Regions from separate parts of the Homo sapiens genome. Here regions 1 and 2 are each linked to region 3. Evidence: fine-mapped expression QTL. A gene starts in region 3. Each other region holds a variant in brackets. All regions are shown on one strand. Distances are from middle to middle.

Region 1 (2,754 bases), 24 kb before region 3:
TAAAAAATGATGAGTTCGTGTCCTTTGTAGGGACATGGATGAAATTCGAAATCATCATTCTCAGTAAACTATCGCAAGAACAAAAAACCAAACACCGCATATTCTCACTCATAGGTGGGAATTGAACAATGAGAACACATGGACACAGGAAGGGGAACATCACACTCTGGGGACTGTTGTGGGGTGGGGGGAGGTGGGAGGGATAGCTTTAGGAGATATACTTAATGCTAAATGACCAGTTAATGGTTGCAGTACACCAACATGGCACATGTATACATATGTAACTAACCTGCACATTGTGCACAGGTACCTAAAACTTTAAGTATAATAATAATAAAATTAAAAAAAAAATAAAAGCAGAAATAGGCAAATCTTTTGTTTGTTTGCTTGTTTTGAGACAGGATCTTGCTCTGTCACCCAGGCTGTAGTACAGTGGTGCGATCTCAGCTCACTGCAACCTCCGCCTCCCAGGTTCAAGCAATTCTCCTGCCTCAGCCTCCCAAGTAGCTGGGATTACAGGTGTGAACCACCATGCCTGGCTAATTTTTGTATTTTTAGTAGAGATTTTAGTAGAGATGGGGCTTCACCATGTTGGCCAGGCTGGTCTCAAACTCCTGACTTCAAGTGATGTGCTCGCCTCAGCCTCTCAAAATGCTAGGATGACAGGTATGAGGCACTGCACCCAGCAAGGCAAATCTATCATAGTCAGATATTTCAATATGCTACTCTCAATAACTGATAAAACAAGCAGACAGAAAATCAGCAAGGACATAGTATACATACATACACAGAATATCAATAATATCAACAAAATACATAGAAAAATACATAGAAAAATACATAGAAAAACACATAGAAAAATACATAGAAAAATACGTAGAAAAACAATAATATCAACAAAATTGACCTGATTTATAAAATATTGTACACAACAAAATTCACATTCTTCTCAAGTGCACACAAACTCTTCCCGAAAATTGAAGAGAGAATTTTTCCCAATTCACTCATTCTATGAGGACAGCATTACCTTGATAGCAAAACTAGACAAA[G/A]ACATTACAAGAAAAGAAAATTTCATGCCAATATCCTTCACGAACAGGGATGCAGAAATTCCCAAAAAAACTTTAGCAAACTGAAGGACAAGATAATTCATTGCTCTATCAAAAAAAAAAAAAAAAAAGAAAAAGAAAAAAGGCCAGGCTTGGTGGCTTATGCCTGTGATCCCAGTATTTTGGGAGACTGAGGTGGGAGGATCGCTTGAGCCTGGGAGTTTGAGACCAGCCTGGGCAACATAGTGAGATTCTGTCTCTACAAAAAAAAAAATTACAAAAACAAACAAAAAGATAATTGGGGAAAGAATACTCTTTTTAACAAATGATCTTAAGACAAATAGATACCCACATTCAAAGGAATATACAGCAGTTGGACCCCTTCCTTACACCAAACAAAAAGATTAATACCGAACGGTTCACAGTCCTAAATGTAAGAGCTAAAAATATGTCATTTTTTTTTGAGATGGAGTCTTGCTCTGGGGTGCAGTGGCGTGATCTCGGCTCACTGCAACCTCTGCCTCCTGGGTTCAAGCAATTCTCCCTGCCTCAGCCTCTCAAGTAGCTGGGACTACAGGCACCCGCCACTATGCCCAGCTAGTTTTCGTATTTTTTAGTGGTGACAGGGTTTTGCCACGTTGGCCAGGCTGGTCTTGAACTCCTGACCTCAGGTGATCCACCTGCCTTGGCCTCTCAAAGTGCTGGGATTACAGGCGTGAGCCACCGTGCCTGGCCTAAAAATATAAAATTCTTAAAAGAAAACACAGGAGTAAATCTCCATGACTCCAGACTAAGCAAAGTCTTCATAGATATGACATCAAAAGCAACAAAAAGAAAAAGAGAGAATTGGGTTTCATCGAAACTTAAAACTTTTGTGTTTCAAAGGACACCAGCAAGAAACTGTCTGACTGCCCACAAAATGGAAAAATGTATTTGCAAATTAGATATCTGATAAGGGGCTTGTGTCTAGAATATGTCAAGAACTCTTACGACATCTTGATGCAGAGCAGGTGAGCTCTACAGCAGGGCTTAGCCTGTGAGGGTTCTTGGCTTTGGCCAGGGAAGGATTTAAGGGTGAATGGGAGGTATGGAAGCGGCAGGGCTACAGCTCCTGCAGAGCGGGGCTGCCCCCCAGGCAGAAAGCAGCAGCTCAGGGCAGTGTCGCAGTCATATTTATACCCACTTTTAACTGCGTGCAGATCAAGGGGTGGTTTATGTGGACATTTCTAGGGAAGCGGCAGTAACTTTTGGGTCATCAGGCCATTGCCATGGAAAGGGGTGGTAACTCCCAGGTGTTGCCATGGTGATGGTAAACTGGCATGATGCGTTGGTGGGCGTGTCTTATGGAAGGCTGCTTCCTCCCTGACCCTGTTTTATCTAGTCCTCAATTTGGTCTTGTGTCTGAGCCCCACTTCTGGAGTCAAGTTCTGCCTCTTATCTCCATTTCTCCAACTAAGATCTACAAATGGCCCATAGCACACAAAAAGATGCTCAACATCATTAGCCTTTAGGGAAATGTAAATCCAAACCACAAGAAGGCACCACTTCACACCCACAAAGATGGCTACATCCAAAAGACAGACAGGCCAGCACGGTGGCTCATGCTTGTAATCCCAGCACTTTGGGAGGCTGAGGCGGGTGGATCACAAGGTCAGAAGATGGAGACCATTCTGGCCAACATGGTGAAACCCTGTCTCTACTAAAAATA
Region 2 (2,754 bases), 34 kb before region 3:
TGCAAGCACAGACCCCCGAGGCTCTGAGGCTCTGGGGCTTCTAGCCACCAGCTGGGTGAGGTTTCTGGGGGCAGGGGCACGGGCATGGAGGTGGCCCTGGTGGCGGAGGCTCTTCCCAGGGCGGCCAGGGGCATTCCGCTGCCGCTTTCTCCCACTTCAGCCATGTGAGTCACGGAACCTTAGGGAGAACTCGGGGCCGAGTGACCGGCCAGGAGTGCTGGCCGCTGAGAGGGACTGCTGCAGACAGTGACCAGGAGGGTCACAGGCCACACAGTGCCCGGGAGAAAGGGCCCTGGCACAGCCTGCCAACCACGCCCCTCAGCCCTCAGCCCTGTCTCACTGCAGGAGAGCCCAGAGCTGAGCTGAGCTCACAAGGCAGTGTGGCTGGCCGGGCTGGGGTCTGCGGCACCCTTGGGACAGGCACACCCTGGGCAGGAAGATGTGAGGGAGGCTTTGGGGCCTGCTAGGCTGGCTTAAGGGACAGGAAAGGGGGGTCCAGGCCAAGGCTCACCGGACTCCGGCTTGGGAAGGGGCTGGCCCTGCCTGCTTGCCCCAGGGGCCTGGAGGGTTGGAGTTGGGGGATCACCCCAGTGCGGCAGCCAGGTCGGGGGATTGTGAGGACTCAGGGGCGGCAGGTGGGGCTCAGGTCTAGAGTAGAGAGGCCTTGGCACTTGGGGAGGCGGCGCGACGGCCGCCTGGTGGTGCCATCTGTGCAAATCCTGGGGAGAGGCCTTCAGGGGACTTGGGGCTGCATGTGGTGGGAAGGGCTGGGCAGGGACATGGCAGGGATTGAGCTCGCATCGGCCAAGGCAGGTGACAAGGGCTGGCATATGAGGCGCATTTGGGGATGACCAGGGACGTCTCGTCAAACCTGGGACATTTATCTGCATGTGGAAGGTGGTGGCACACAGCCCACCCCTGCTAAGTTGTGGATCTGGGCTCAGCACAGCCTCTCAGATCTGCCCTGTGCTCCTCAACCCAGGAACCTGCGGCCTGTGTCCTCCCCAAGCAGCACCTCAGGCTCAGATCCCAGCTTTGGGGACCGGGAACCTCAGCTGTCAGCTGGGCCCTCTTCAAAGGCCCCCAAACTCAAAGTGCCAGGCATTTGTCCAGTGGGGACCCCCACGCCCGACCCCCGTTTACTGAGCCTTGGGGTGCAGGGCTGTGGCAAGAAGGACCCGGTGGCCGGCAGCACCCCAGGGCCTCCCAACGCTGTCAAGACTGTTCCCTCAGTCCGGCACTGAGACGCACACTGTGCTGCGCGGGAGGGTTTGAATCGCACACACTGCTCACTGCACAGGAGGGTTTGATGTGCACTGCTCGCTGCACCGGAGGGATTAAGCTTTGATTCAACTCCATGAGTAACTCTGGAATGATCCCTGTGAAGTCTAGGCCGCACATTCTATGGAAGTGCAGTTCTCACTGGCCCCAGCCTTGGGGGGCAGAGTTGGGGGCTGGGGGGTTCTGCCGGAGCACCTGGGCCTCATCTCCACGAAGAAACGTGAGGCAACCCGTGCAGAAGCGGAGCAGCGGGAAACCCTGACCTCGAGAGAGCAGTCGGCGCCGCGGCCCCCAGAGCCATGGCCGG[C/T]GGCTGCTGTGAGGGCTCCCGGGCGGCAGGAGTGGCTGGGGCCGTGTCCAGGCTGGCCACTGGCCTCGAGGCCTGGGTGAGTCTGCTGCCCTCAGCCAAGTAGACCCAGAACTCTGCCCTGAGGACCCCACGAGGCTGCAGCCCCTGCCAGGCTCACGGCAGACGAACAATCGGCTTGAGCCTCCGCAGCCACCCGTGACTGCTTGTCTGGGGATGTGGGCTGCCCGGCCCTGCCTCCTTTCACCCACGCGTGATGACTGACCCTGGGTGCGGCTTGCTCCTGCTCTGGCCTGGTTCTGGGTCCCCATGACCCCACCCCCACCTTGACTGCTGGGCCTGGGCCCACCCACCCCCAACTGGTTTGTGAGCTCCACTTACCAAGCAGGCCACCAGGGGTGTCCTCCTGGCCATGGAGGGCACCCAAATGCAGCTCCAGGTCTCCCCTGGGCAGGGGCACGTCGGCTTCTGCCCCTCCCTTGGCAGCTCTGGGCCCCGGCACCCCAGCTGCGGGGCTGGACACAGGATAAGGGATGCATTCGAACCCACTGCAAAGGAATGGGGGCAGCTTGGCTCTACTCACCCCACACCAAACTAGGGTGCAGGCAGACAGCGTGGCCCACGCCCTGGACCCTGGGACTTGCCTACACTGAGTCCAGGGAGCGCTACTCAGCCTCTCTGGGAGGTCTCCTGCTGGGATGGGGCCAGTTGAGGCCCAGAGAGAAAAAAGACTCGCCAGGGAGAAGACAGCAGGTCTTGGCTTGAAGGAAGAGCTGCCTGCCGCCCCCATTATTATTTATGACAACTCCAGCAGCGTCACCTCTCGGGTGCGTTCTGACTTCACAGTGGGTCCAAGTTTACCCCAAATGTCAGACAGTCCTTAACTCAGGAGAAGGGCCGGTGGGAAAAGGGAGTGTGAGAGCTGTGGCGTCACACTCAGGTCTGGTCGCCTGGGGCACTGCTAAGTTCTGACTGTGAATGGTAAAATGCATGGATTTTCATGTTGCGGGGCTTAGAGTGAGGCCTCTTCCTGGAGTCCTGCAGCTCAGGCCTCTGTTTGCGTGTGGGTTTGTGCACACACTGGCCTGGTCCAGCGTGTTCCTGGGAGGCCTGGTGATGTGTGCGTGGGGAGTGGCGCCCAACTAGGCCTGGCTGGTAAGGGCCACTCC
Region 3 (2,754 bases):
CAGCAGCTGCAAGAAGAGACCACAGATGCTTCTCACCGTGCTTCCTCCCTGCTTTCCATTCTCCTTCATATCGAAAGAAGGAATTTGGGTATACGTAGACACCATAACCTGAGTATTGAGAAGACACACACAGGTAAGCACAGACACAGAGATGAGGGATGCTCTCCAGTGCTGAAGGAGGGAGTGCAGCTCCCTTGAGGGCCTTCAAGGGGTTGGTACACGTCACCTTCAGCAGACCAGAGGCGACCTGTGGGGCTCATGAGCTCTCCTGTCGACTGTTGGGCCATTCATTTGCTCATTTGTTTATGTGACAAGGATGAGGACCTACTTGGTGCAGAGAAGACAGGCCCAGTAAGAGGAGGGCTGGCTTGAAACAACTGCAGGTCCTTGAGAGACCAGAGGTGCTCGGGAGGTGGTGAGGAGCAGGTTGGGAGCCTTGTTGCAGGAGATGAGTGAGCCAGGGGAAGGCAGAGCGGCAGTGTCAGTGAGGCACACAGGGGAGGAGCAGACTCTCCCATCCCCTGCCGTGGCCCTTCAGTGGCCTCCTATCGCTGGGGAGAAAATCCACACTCATACCCAAGGATGGCCTGGCCGGCTTCATCTCCTCCTAGTTGCTGGGTGTGCCACCCGCCAACTCCTGCAGTTCCAGGAATGGGCAGGGCTCCCTCCCTACCAGCTCCTCAGGCACATTTTGTGGGCAGGGTTTATGGGAAAATGTCGGGGAGGAGGGCAGGGGGTTACTACAGGCTACTGTATCTGTCCCAAATCAGGGTCAGGTTCTACCTGAAGATAGTAGTGTTAGCTCTGAGTTCATTCCAGACCCGTTTATTTGATTCTAGAAACAGTTCCTATCAAAACCTGCTCTTTTTTTTTTTTTTGAGACTGAGTCTTGCTCTGTCGCCCAGGCTGGGGTGCAGCGGCGCGATCTCGGCTCTCTGCAACCTCCGCTTCCTGGGTTCAAGCGATTCTCCTGCCTCAGCCTCCCGAGTAGCTGGAACTACAGGAGGCACCACCCCGGGCCAATTTTTGTATTTTTTAGTAGAGACCGGGTTTCGCCATGTTGGCCACACTGGTCTCGAACTCCTGACCTCAGGTGATCCACCCGCCTCGGCCTCCCAAAGTGCTGGAAGTACAGGCAAAAACTGCTTTTGAAACGCGTCCTAGCGTTTCTGGACAGCACCGGCCAGGAAGTCAGGAGGCTTGGTGCTGCTCCTGCGCCTGCCCTCGCCCCAAGTCCTGGGCTTCGGGATCCCCATGGCAACCCCAGGTCCCGCTGGCTGTGAGGCTGCGGCCGGAACCCGGTCTTCCCGGCTAGGAGCCCGCGGGGGGCGACCCCCTGCAGGGCTTGGCCTGCTGCGGGAGGAGGGCTCGGGGAAGGGTGCGAGCCGAGCCCGAGGCGCACGGCGAGTCCTGTGGGAGTGGGGGACGCGGGGGCGGCCCTGGCTCCGCCGCGGCACCTGGACCTCTACTTTCCGAGGTGAGCATTTGGGGGTCGAGGGCGTAGAGCGATCGCACCCTGAATGGAGCCCAGGGCAGCCAGCGACCTGTCCCGTGGCCCGCAGTCGTTACCGTTCCGGGGCGGCCGCCTAGGCGGGTCCCGACGCGGCCCGCGGGAGCTCGGGGTGCCCTCGCCCGCCGCTGCCATCTTGCCGCCGAGGGTTCTCTTAGCGACCAGCAACGCCCGCTTCCATTGGTCTTTGTCGCAAGGGGGGGTGTGGCCACGGGCCTAGTCCCTGAGCCCGCGCAATCTCTGGAGCGAAGCTAGCCGGGCCCGGAGCCAGAGGACGCAGCTGCGCCTGTGCGCGTTTCCGCCGCTGTCGTCTCTTCCGCCGGGAGGCCCGCCCGCCAACGGCCTGCGCGTCTGCGCCGGAAGCGGAAATGGTTGGAGCCCTTGGCCCCGCCCTCGCGCCATCTTGGGGGCCCTGGAGGCGGCGCCGCGGAGGACGGAGCGGAAGTGCTCGCTGCAGCTTCCCGGAGCCGGAGCGCAGCGCCTGCGGCCGCCCGTGCCCCGCCGTCCTCCTTCCCGCGGCCGTGAGGGAGACCGCGGCTCGGCCGTAGCGGAGCTGCGAGGTGCCAGGAAGGGCTGCGTGGCGCGGGAACGGCCGGGCAGCGCCGCCTCCGCTTCTTCCGGGCTGTCAAGGCCGCGGGCGGGCGGGGCCGCGCTGAGGGCCGGGCGGGGAGGGCCGTCGGGGCCCGGGTGGCCGCGGGGACCGTGTTCCCGACCCGCGGCCCTGAGGGGTACGGGTCGCGCCTCGGGGTCGGGCCCGGGACGGGGTGCTGGGGGGTGCGGCGGAGCCCTGGGGCCTGCGAGGGTCGGGGGAGCGGGAGAGGGGCCGGGCGGGGGCTGCAGCCCTCGAGCCACCCGGGCCGCATCTCGTCCGCATCCCCTGCTTGGCATCTGGGGGAAGCGGGCAGTCGCGGCCCCCACAGCGCTGCGAGTTGGGCTGTATTCCAGAGTAATGTGCCCTGTCCCCATCCTGCGTCCAGGTCAGCGCTTATCTGTAGGATTTAGTGTTAAGCTCTGGGGTGAAGGCGTTACTGACGGGCTGAAGGGAAACTAGTTACATCGGTTTTGATCGTATTCTAAATAGGCAATAAAATCATAAATTCTCCAGGCTGACTTAGTACTGGTCTGTGGCCCCACTGATAAAGGTATCGTTCGTTTCTCTGCCAGGTGTCTCACAGCACAGAGGGCTGCTTTCAGCCTAAGTACCTTCAGTGGGCTTTTGCCCTTTTCCCTTTATGAAGAGTAGA

What was found. PIP is the estimated chance that this variant, and not a neighbour inherited with it, causes the effect. A credible set is the group of variants that fine-mapping cannot tell apart.
Region 1: its variant is the best candidate, but not a certain one, in a credible set for the expression of MORN1 in whole blood (INTERVAL, PIP 0.85).
Region 2: its variant is the best candidate, but not a certain one, in a credible set for the expression of MORN1 in whole blood (TOPMed, PIP 0.60).

What each region holds. Positions count from the first base shown.
Region 1 is chr1:2,366,148-2,368,901 of GRCh38, forward strand. The region is part of intron 8 of MORN1 (MORN repeat containing 1); the gene reads right to left. Among named protein-coding and RNA genes, the nearest start is that of MORN1, 24 kb to the right of the region's middle. The variant G/A (reference allele first, on the strand shown) is at 1,050.
Region 2 is chr1:2,355,466-2,358,219 of GRCh38, forward strand. MORN1 (MORN repeat containing 1) reads right to left here. Exons shown (of 14, transcript NM_024848.3): 10 at 1,967-2,133. Among named protein-coding and RNA genes, the nearest start is that of MORN1, 35 kb to the right of the region's middle. The variant C/T (reference allele first, on the strand shown) is at 1,589.
Region 3 is chr1:2,389,889-2,392,642 of GRCh38, forward strand. It overlaps MORN1 (MORN repeat containing 1), which reads right to left and starts at 1,666. Exons shown (of 14, transcript NM_024848.3): 1 at 1,570-1,666; 2 at 37-108. The coding sequence starts at 1,645. It overlaps RER1 (retention in endoplasmic reticulum sorting receptor 1), which reads left to right and starts at 1,953. Exons shown (of 7, transcript NM_007033.5): 1 at 1,953-2,070. RefSeq lists silencers at 1,239-1,368, 1,529-1,598, 1,729-1,838, 1,939-2,238 and enhancers at 1,662-1,956, 1,825-2,697.